Linked DNA regions of Homo sapiens. The protein of the gene in region 1 purifies or fractionates together with the protein of each later gene. This does not show direct contact. Each region holds a gene or a part of one and is shown in the gene's direction. Other genes may lie near its edges.

Region 1 (3,633 bases):
AAAATAAAAGAATAAAGAGAGAAGGAGAAGGATAGAAGAAGGGAAACTCAATGAATAAAACACCCTGGGGCCTACTATGTAGCCAGAAAAATGAAAAGTAAAGAAATAAAATAAGGCTGTGCATGTGGTTTATGCTCATAGTCCCAGAGCTTTGGGAGGGTGAGGCAGGAGGATCGCTTGAGCCCAAGAGTTCAAGATCAGCCTGGGCAACATGGTGAAACCCCGTCTCTAAAAAAATTATTTAAAAAATTAGGCAGGTGTGGCGGCATGCACCTGCATCCCAGCTTATCAGGAGGCTGAGGTGGGAAGATTCCTTGAGCCTGGGAGGTCAAGGCTGCAGTCAGCCCAGATCCCACCACTGCACCCCCTAACCTGTGCACCAGAGAGAGACCCTGTCTCAAAAATGAGTAAATAAGGAAACGGCCCGGGGCTCCAGGCCCGCCCTCTGCTCCCATCGCCCCACCCCTGCACTCCTCCTGCTCCTGGTCTGAGCTCCCCTGTCCTCCTCCTCCTCCTTCGCCAGGTGGATTCTGAGACCCATTGTCATGCAGAAAGGTGCTTCCTCTCTTGGTTCTGCGACGACATACTGTCTCCTAACACAAAGTACCAGGTCACCTGGTACACATCTTGGAGCCCTTGCCCAGACTGTGCAGGGGAGGTGGCCGAGTTCCTGGCCAGGCACAGCAACGTGAATCTCACCATCTTCACCGCCCGCCTCTACTACTTCCAGTATCCATGTTACCAGGAGGGGCTCCGCAGCCTGAGTCAGGAAGGGGTCGCTGTGGAGATCATGGACTATGAAGGTGAGACGTGGGGGGCTGAGGAGAGTGGGTGCAGGAGGGACAGCATGAGGGGCAGATGGTTCTCCAATGCTGTGGGGCGGGTCAGTGTCCCCTGGGTGTCTGTGGGGACCGGGCCAGCGCCCACTGCAACTGGCAGCCTGGATACCTGGGCTGGGAGGGGAGGGCCCAGGGCCAGGAGAGAGGCCTGCTGGGCCCTCACTGTTTTCTCCTTGTTTTTTCTCAGATTTTAAATATTGTTGGGAAAACTTTGTGTACAATGATAATGAGCCATTCAAGCCTTGGAAGGGATTAAAAACCAACTTTCGACTTCTGAAAAGAAGGCTACGGGAGAGTCTCCAGTGAGGGGTCTCCCTGGGCCTCATGGTCTGTCTCCTCTAGCCTCCTGCTCATGCTGCACGGGCCTCCCCTCCACCCTGGACCCGCTCTGTTTCTGCCTGGTCATCCTGAGCCCCTCCTGGCCTCAGGGCCATTCCACAGTGCTCCCCTGCCTCACCGCTTCCTCCTCGCTCTTCCAGACTCTTCCTGCAGAGGCTCCTTTCTGCCTCCATGGCTATCCATCCACCCCCACAGACCCCGTTCCTCCAGCCTGCGTGCCCCTAACCTGGCTTTTCCCATCTCCCCAGCATAACCAAATCTTACTAAACTCATCCTAGGCTGGGCATGGTGACTCACGCCTGTAATCCCCCAGCAATTTGGGAGGCAAAGGTGGGAGAATCGCGTGAGCCCAGGAGTTCCAGACCAGGCTGGGTCACATGACAAAGCCCCATCTCTACAAAAAAAAAAAAAAAAAAAAAAAAAAAGCCAGATGTGGTGGCATGCATCTGTAGTCCAAGCTACTTGGGAGGCTGAAGTGGGAGGATTACTTGAGCCCGAGAGGTGGAGGCTGGAGTGAACAGAGATCGCGCCACTGAACTCGGGTCTGGGCAACAGATAGAGACCCTGCCTGAAAATAAATCGATAAATAAACTCAACCTAAACAGGTGTGAATATATGTAAGTTGAAAACCCGAAGTTTTGAGAAACATCCTTTGTAAATTTCATCCTATGAATTGGGTCATTCATGTCCTACCCAGCTAAAACAGAGGCCAGGAGCCAGGGAGGAAAAGCAGTCAGGCCACACAACATTGTTTCCGAAATGGACTTCTCTGCAAGCCTGACTCCTGAGACTGTGCATTGTACCCTGAAACCAGCTTTATCCATAGCTTCTGCGATAAATGGCTGTAAGTCTTGGACTCCTTGCTCCAAACGCAGCGACTCAGCAATAGAACCTCCCAGCTCCCAGCCCTTCCTAGTGCCCATGGGCTTTACATAGGGCAAGAGAACATTTCTCCTTCTATAATTGCCATCTCTTTGCTCTCTCAACATGGTGAACACCATCCGGACTCCGTGTATGTCTCAAATTACAATTCTTTCTTTGCAAATGAAATATGAAATTTAGAGGCTCTTCTAAACACTTTAAATTTGATTTGACATTTTCAAAGCAGATGTAAGTTTTAGAGAATGAGATTCTCCATAAAAATGACCCTTTCATGCTGTGGCCTCCATAGAAGATGTCCCAGGCCAGGTGCCCACATGGCAGGCATTTATTTTCTCACAGATCTGGAAGCTGCAGGTCCAACTTCGAGGGGTGGGTGGGGTTGTTTCCTCTGAGGCCGCTCCTTCTGGCTGGCAGGGAGTCTCTTCCAGCCGTGTCCTCTGTGGCCTTTCCTCTATGCACACGCACCTCTGGGATCTCTCTGCCTCCAAATATCATCTTTTTTTTTTTTTTTTTTTTTTTTGAGACAGAGTGTTGCTCCTCTTGTCCAGGCTGGAATGCAATGGCACAATCTGGACTCACTGCAACCTCCGCCTCCCGAGTTTAAGCGATTCTTCTGCTTCAGCCTCCCGAGTAAAAGGCATGCATCACCACACCTGGTTAATTTTGTAGTTTTAGTAGAGATGGGGTCTCACCATGTTGGCCAGACTGGTCTCGAACTCCTGACCTCAGGTGATCCGCCTGTCTCAGCCTCTCCAAGTGCTGGGATTACAGGCATCAGCCACTATGCCCGGCTGGGATCATATGTTCCACACATGTTTGTTCAATAAGCATGGACTGCAACCACCTACATGAATATTCATAGCTCCTCCTGTAGCCTGTTGAATATGTATGTTTAGCCAACCTCTTCAGCATAAAGCTCCTGCCCAAACCCCTCCTGCTCCTAAATGTCTGTCTCTGGTGTTAACCAGAGGCTGCTCTTCCCAGGCTGCTGGATGGCTACCTTGCAGGCTGTCACCCTTAACAAGAAATAAAGTGTCCTTTGCAAATGCATCCCTTGTGTAATTTGTAGGTCACCGCGCCATGGGAACACGCTACCATGGGAAGGGAGCTGTGAGACGCGCAGGGAGGCTCCAGACAGGCTGGCCTGGGACACCAGCCGCTGCCCTTCCATAACATGGGGACAAGAGAGGGCAAAAGTTCAGCCCAACACGGAGGATCTTCGGGCAGGAGATGGGGAAGAAGGAGAAGCAGGAAGGAAAGAGCTCAGTGTGGGGGCGCGCATGGCATCCCGGTGGGACATCTGAGGCCCACACCCACCTGCTGTCCCTCCCTCCCACGGTGGCCACCGAGGGTGAAGGCCTGGGGGGAGGCAGACGCCTGGCCCTTTACTCTCCCTCCCTGTCCCCATGGCCGCTGGGTGGGGGCCGTCTCTGGGATGATCCCCGAGGGCAGGATCCGGGAGTCCCTGCAGAGGCATCAGCCTGTCTGTCTTGATGGTGGAGTGGCGGCTCCAGCTGGGCGGGACCACCAGGGGAGGGGCTTGTGCTCTGCTGGCTCAGCCTGGTGTGGACCC
Region 2 (7,037 bases), on another chromosome or scaffold:
GGTTGTGTGGGTTAAATGAGACACACGAATATATAACACTCAGCACACTGCCCGGCACATGGTAGGACTCAGGGCAAGGCATGTCTAGGGGTCTCTGTGGGCTGTCTCCCTCACATTCATGCCTCACTTCCTCCTTCCCAGCAGAACCTTGATTCTGTTCAGTACAGTAGCTATTATTATTGTTATTACTATTACTGATTTTTAAAAATGCTTGTTGATAGAACTTAGTGAGCCTGTGCTGGGTGACGTGAGAGAAAGTACAGCCTTCTCTCGATCTCTTCTGCCTGTGAAGCCAGTGGAGATAGAGATTGAAACGCCAGAGCAGGCGAAGACAAGAGAAAGAAGGTAAGCTTAGGCCCTTGCTTCTAGGCTCCTGTCACATGCAGTAGGCAACAGCTGCTGCTTAGGAGGACTTTGGAGAAACTTGTAGGGGACCAGGACTGAGTATCAAAGTGGTCGAGAACCTTGGGTCAGGAACCTGATTTACCTTTAGAGACTTGAATGAGACACCTTCGTGTCCTGGCTGGGGCTGGTGAGGGATGAGGAGAGGGAACTCCTGTGTGCCAAGGATTGAGCAGGTCATCCGTTATCTTACCTAATCCTTAGAACAGTGTTGTGAATGAGGAGCTAAGTAACGTTCAGACGCTAAGTAACGTTTCAAGAGTCACTCAGCCAGTAATGGAAGAGCTGAGACCTAATCCTTCTCATTGACTTGGCATTCACATTTTCCTCACCATGTCATGCTGCAGGACTTGAGGCAGTGCCCGCCGTGGTAGGGAGCCCCTATCCTTCCCAGCATCCCGGAGTACCTCTGCAGCCTCTGATGGCTTGGGAATTCCAATGTGCGATGGGCACATTACTAGGCACAGAAGAGGGAGATAATACAAATCATTCAAGAAGTGTCAAGTTGTCTTGAAGATTAATGGGATACAGACTGAAAAAGAGATTTTACACTAGAACAGTGTCACATAAATGATGGTGTGTTAATTTAACATTAATAAAGGTAATGGTTGCTAAGGAGAGAGTCAGTAGTCGGAAGAGTTGGACAGCCAGAGAAGACTTCCTGGAAGAAGTGAGCTTTGAGGCATGTAGGTGAGGTGTGATCTGCTGCTGGTTGAGAGGAGGGTTGTCTGGGTACAGAATGTCCCAGGCCGAGGTTTGCTGGTGAGAAGGAGCCAAAGAGCCTGCAGGAAATAGCTGGCTTGCAGACGGACTTGAGTAGCACAGCCTTGTGTAGGGAAACAGGGAGAGTGATTCACTGTCATCCGAGGAGAAGGAATTGCCTGGGGGAGTGGAGTCTGGTTTCAGTTCCCCCCTTCATTCCCAGATTTTTCACTATTTGTTGCAGTGAAAAGATAAAACTGGAGTTTGAGACATATCTTCGGAGGGCGATGAAACGTTTCAATAAAGGGGTCCATGAGGACACACACAAGGTAAGGGCAAGGAATGATGGGGAAGGACTTTTCCTTGTCGGTGCAAAGAGCTTGTGCTCACCGAGGCTTTATTTCTGGCTTTGCTGCTCTGTGGCCATGGCAAGTTTCTTACTCTCTCTGAGCCTTTGCATCCTCATCTGGGAGGTGGGGGTAGTAATAGTGTCTGTCTTGGAGGGTGGTTGTGTATTATAGGTAAGGTAACTTGCAGCACAATGCCTGGCATGCAGCAGAGGCTAAATAAAGAGCACTTGCCTTCCATCTCTCCTTTCAGCCATTTAATGTCATTAATTCTAATCCCAGCTGCAGGCACTGGCTTTTGACTTTAGCTGACAGTTATTGAACACTTGCACACACCTAGCAAGGTGCTTGGCATGGTGGGGATAGAGACTTGGATAAAGCTTATTTCCTACAATTGAGGAGTATCTGATCTCTAGATGGAACAAGGACTTCCAAACAGAGAAACTCAAGGCTATGCCTGGAACAGTGAAAGAGATCAGCGTGGCTCTGTGGAGCTGGGGAAGGCTTTATGTAGGGGAAAGGATTAGAGCCAGGTCTAGGAGAAAAAGTTGAAGACTCTAGCCAAGTTGTGGAGGGGACGGCGAGGTGCCCAGCTCACCTGCGTGTGTGGAGTATGTAGGTGTTGGGGGGTGGGGGTGAAGGGAGGGTGGGCTTTGGTTTCCCTTTGATGGATGGTGGGCTGCCTGAGAGGATAGTGATGGGATGGGTGAGTTGCTTTGTGTGCAGCTACTGCAGAAATCTAGAGGTGCAAGGATGGTGACGAGGTTAGAGAGGGGTCGCCTCCCTCACCCAGGCCTGGGGCACGAAACGAGACAGCTGTGTGCCTTTCACCTCTTGTTGGGTGCTGGAGGTGAAAGAAAGGGAAGATGACTCTCAGGTTTGAGGCCTGAGTGAGGAGAGAGAGGCAGCACTATTGATTAAAATAGGGAGGCTGTTAGTCGGGGGGGAGGAAGCCAATGTTGAAGGGAAAATGACACAAAGCAGTATGTGAAAAGAGGTGAAGAGGTCATATAATCATTTCAGTAGGTGGATGAAGGGTGGGTTTTGGGGTCAGAGGAAGGGCAAAGATGTGGAGCCTGTGACAGAGAAGGTTGGGCTCAAACACCCAGAGAGGTGGCGAGAGCAGCCCAGTGAGCCCAGTGGGGTGCATCCCGCCGGCTTCCACAGGCTTCCAGCAGTCTCTCCAGCTCCACTCCACTTGCCTTTTCTTCTGATCTCGTGGAGCAAACCCCAGACATGGCAGCATTTCATCCAGAAATCTTTCAGTATGTATCTCTGAAAGACAAGACCAAAACAAAAACAGTTTGTATTTTGAAAACAAAGCAATTTGTATTTTGAAGCTTTGAGGTTTGATGATTCCTTTGAAGGAATGAGTATACAGAGAGAAAAAGAGAGGGTCAAAGACAAGCTTGGGAAGTGGCCAATGCTAGTGTTTTTACTTTCTTATATGTAGAAATGGCAACACATATTTCTTGTCCACAGCATGTCTTGACTTTGGCAGCAAAAATTCCTCCTGGTGTCCGGCCTTCCTTCCATGCTGCCCCTTCCTCCTTTCCTCTTCACAGGTTCACCTTCTCTGCCTGCTAGCAAATGGCTTCTATCGAAATAACATCTGCAGCCAGCCAGATCTGCATGCTATTGGCCTGTCCATCATCCCAGCCCGCTTTACCAGAGTGCTGCCTCGAGATGTGGACACCTACTACCTCTCAAACCTGGTGAAGTGGTAAGGCCCTCCGCTTGTCCTGCAGAGCTGGGGAGTGTAGGATTTGTGTTTCTCTCAGAGGCTGGGTTCAGGTCACTTCCACAGACCTTCCCTGAGGCGGTAACTATGTATCAGGTGGTGGGCATGGCATTGAAGATAGAGAAATGCCAGGTATGATCTTGCCCTGGTAGAGCTGCCAGACTGGTGGGGAGACAAATACATACCAGGTAATTACAGGATGGCATGAGGAGTGCCCTGGAAGGGGTGTTCTGGGGACTGCAGGCTCACATAGCAGGGGCGCTTTTCTCAGCTGGGAGGTCTGGGAAGGCTCCCCAAGGAGGTAAAGTCTGAGCTGGGTCTGCAGTGATGATAGGAGTTAGCTAGACGGGCTGGGGAAAGTAGGACAGAGGCAGGCGGGTCTCACGATTCACTCCCTCTTTTTATTTTCTTGGCTGGAAATGAAAATTCCCCTTTGCCCTGACCTCTGACACAAGGAATGCCTGCTTTCTCCCCAGGTTCATTGGAACATTTACAGTTAATGCAGAACTTTCAGCCAGTGAACAAGATAACCTGCAGACTACATTGGAAAGGAGATTTGCTATTTACTCTGCTCGAGATGATGAGGAATTGGTCCATGTAAGTGATCCTCCCGGATCACTGTTTTTTATCAGTACTGTTAACTAATGATAATGGCAGCCATGTGCCAGATGCCATTCCAGGTGTGTTACCGACACTACCTTATTCAGTCCTCATAATGACGTTGATAGCTGCTGAAGCCCAGAATAGCTACATGATGCCTCTAAGGTCTTTTCCTTGGTGAGCCTGAGAATCGAGATTGGGATCAGAGTCTGAGTGGAGGGCCTGTATGCTTTCCTCCCTATCGCCTCTAGTTGTGGTGTACCAAAAAGCCCGTAGTTTTTGGTCAGATGTGCTAGAAATATTTTCATTAATTTTTCCAATTTTGTCTTCAGAAGTCCCAAGGAAATGTTTTTTCAAATTGGATGCTGAAGTCCTTGAGAATGTGTTTTTGTATCTCACATTTGGGTGTTGACACTGGCAGGCAGCAGTGCAGTGAGGAGGGTTCTGTCCATAAAAAGGAATCGTGATGGCAGAGTGCTCCAGGGACAGGCAGGCTTTATCAAATGCCTACAGGCACCTGTAGGTAAGGCTCTGTCTGAATAAAACAAAAACAGAGATGGAAATGTGGTTTTATCCCTAGAAGATTCCTATTAATCCATACAGTTCAATCTGGGAGTCCCAGATTCTCTGGAGAAAAAGATGGTTGACATCTTTAGTTCTCTTCTTCCGTGTTGGCTTTAACAAGTCTAAGATATTTGGCAAGGCTGATAATTATGTTATAATGTGCTGCCAATTTTTTTGTTTGTTTGTTTTTGTTTTTTGAGACAGAGTCTCTCTCTGCCGCCTAGGCTGGAGTGCAGTGGTGCAATCTCAGCTCACTGCAACCTCCACCTCCTGGGTTCAAGTGATTCTCATGCCTCAGCCTCGCGAGTAGCTGGGATTACAGGTGCCCACCACCATGCCTGGCTGATTTTTGTATTTTTAGTAGAGATGGGGTTTCACCCTTCACCCTGTTGGCCAGGCTGGTAACTCATTAATATTTTAGTATTGTCCTCCCAGACTTTGTTCCTGTGTATGTGTGTACGTATGTATTTGTTTTGTTTATTTGTTTAAGCAAAATAGGATCACACAGCTTTTAAAGAGGGGGTACAATTCAGTGACCATTTAGTACATTTACAATGTTGTGCAACTACCACCTCTATTTCCAAAATGTTTTTGTCACCCCCAAGGGAAACCCTGTATATACGCATTAAACTCCTCATTGTTACCCCCCTGTCCCTGCTCGTGGCAACCACCAATCTGTCTTGTGTCTCTGTGGATTTACCTATTTAGGATATTTAGTATAAAAGAAATTATACACTATGTGGCCTTTTCTGCCTGTCTTTTGCTTAGTATAATGTTTTCAAGATTCATCTGCATTTTAGCATGTATCAGTATTTCATTAATATTTATAGCTGAATAATATTCCATTACATGTTTATACATTTTCTCTATCCATTTATCCATTGGCAGACATTTAGTTAGTTTCCACCTTGTGGCTGTTGTGAAGAGTGTTGTTAATAATGTCTATACATATATTTATTTACATACCCTGTTTTCTGTTCTTTTGGGTATATACCTAGGATTGAAATTGCTAGGTCATATGTATATTCTATATGTAATTTTTGGAGAAACCACCAAACTGTTTTCTGCAGTTACTGTACCATTTTACATTGCCACCAGCAATGAACGAGGATTCCAAATCTTTACCAACACTTGGTTATTTTCTGATGTTTTGATTATAGTCATTATGATGGGTGTCAAGTGATACCTCATTGTGGTTTTGATAGCATTTCTCCAATGACATGATGATGAGTGTCTTTTCATGGGCTTCTTGGTCATTTGTGTATCTTTTTTGAGGACATGTCTGTTCAAGTATTTGCCTATTTTTTAATTATGTTGCCTTTTTGTTGATGATTTGTAAGAGCTCCTTGTATATTCTGGATATTAGTTACCTATCAGATACATGCTTTCCACATGGTTTCTCCCATTTTGTAGGTTGCCTTTTTACTTTCTTGATGAAGTCCTTTGATACCCAAAAGTTTTGAATTTTGACAAAGTCCAAGTTACCTATTTTTCTTTTGTTCTTTTTGCTTTTGGTGTCGTATCTAAGATTCCATTGTCAAATCCAAGGTCATAAAGATCGACCCCTGTGTTTTCTTGTAAGAGATTTATAGTTACTGCTCTTACATACGTTGTGAGTTAATATTTGCATATATCAGGTAGGTGTTCAATATCATTCTTATGCATGTGGATATCCATTTGTCCCAGCATTATTTGTTGAAGAGACAATTTTTTCAATGGGGCTTGGATGGTCATGGCATCCTTTTCAAAAATCAACTGGCCATAAATGTATGGGTTAATTTCCAGCCTCTCAATTCTATGCTGTTGGTCTACATGTCTGTTCTTACGCCAGTACAACACTGTTTTGATTACTATAGCTTTGTAGTAAGTTGCGAAATCAGGAAGCCTCAGTGTAACTCTGTTCATTTACAGTGTGCTTTGGTTATCTGGGGCCTCTTGCAATTCCATATGAATTTGATGATCTGTTTTTCCATTTCTGTGAAAAAGCTGTGGAATTTTGATAGGGACTGCACTGATCTGTAGATTAATTTGGGTGCCATTGCCATCTGGTTATTAGGTCTTCCAGTCCATAAGCATGGATGTCTCTCCTTTTATTTTTGTCTTTAATTTCTCAGCTGTATTTTGTAATTTTCAGTGTACAGCCTTTTACCTTGGTTAAATTTTTTCCTAGGTACTTTATTCTTCTTGATGCTCTTGGAAATAGCATTGTTTTCTTAATTTCTCTTTTAGGTTGTTCATTGCAAATGTATAGAAACACAACTGATTTTTTTGTGTTGTCTTGTACCCTGCAGCTTTGCTGAATTCATTTATTAGCTCTACTAGCTTTCTTGTGCATTCTTTGAAATTTTCTATGTATAGGATCATGCCATCTATGAGTAGATCATTTTACTTCTTCCTGTCCAGTTTGCATGCCTTTTTCTTGCCTAATTGCTCTGGCTAGGACTTCAAGTACAATGTTGAATAATGGTGGTGACAGCAGGCATCCTTGTTTTGTTCCTGATAATTAGAGGGAAAGCTCTCAATCTTTCACCATTAAGTATCATACTAGATCTGGGTTATCACGTTGACTCAGTTCCCTTCTATTCCTAGTGTTCTGAATTTTTTTTTTTTTTTTTTAATCATGAAAGCCTGTTGGATTGTCTCAGGTGCGTTTTTCTTTGTCAGTTGAAATGATCCTCTGG

What was found. The genes of interacting proteins can lie anywhere in the genome.
Region 2: the proteins of APOBEC3C (region 1) and XPC purify together in Homo sapiens (co-immunoprecipitation; 3 studies listed by BioGRID and IntAct, with this or other methods). This does not show direct contact.

Annotation. Positions count from the first base shown.
Region 1 is NC_000022.11:39,017,243-39,020,875, forward strand, and holds the end of APOBEC3C (DNA dC->dU-editing enzyme APOBEC-3C), read left to right. Parts: intron 1-523; coding exon 524-803; intron 804-1,026; coding exon 1,027-1,145; 3' UTR 1,146-3,110; downstream 3,111-3,633.
Region 2 is NC_000003.12:14,161,565-14,168,601, reverse strand, and holds part of XPC (DNA repair protein complementing XP-C cells), read left to right. Parts: intron 1-221; coding exon 222-345; intron 346-1,348; coding exon 1,349-1,433; intron 1,434-3,016; coding exon 3,017-3,174; intron 3,175-3,668; coding exon 3,669-3,789; intron 3,790-7,037. UniProt on the Homo sapiens protein: Involved in global genome nucleotide excision repair (GG-NER) by acting as damage sensing and DNA-binding factor component of the XPC complex. Has only a low DNA repair activity by itself which is stimulated by RAD23B and RAD23A.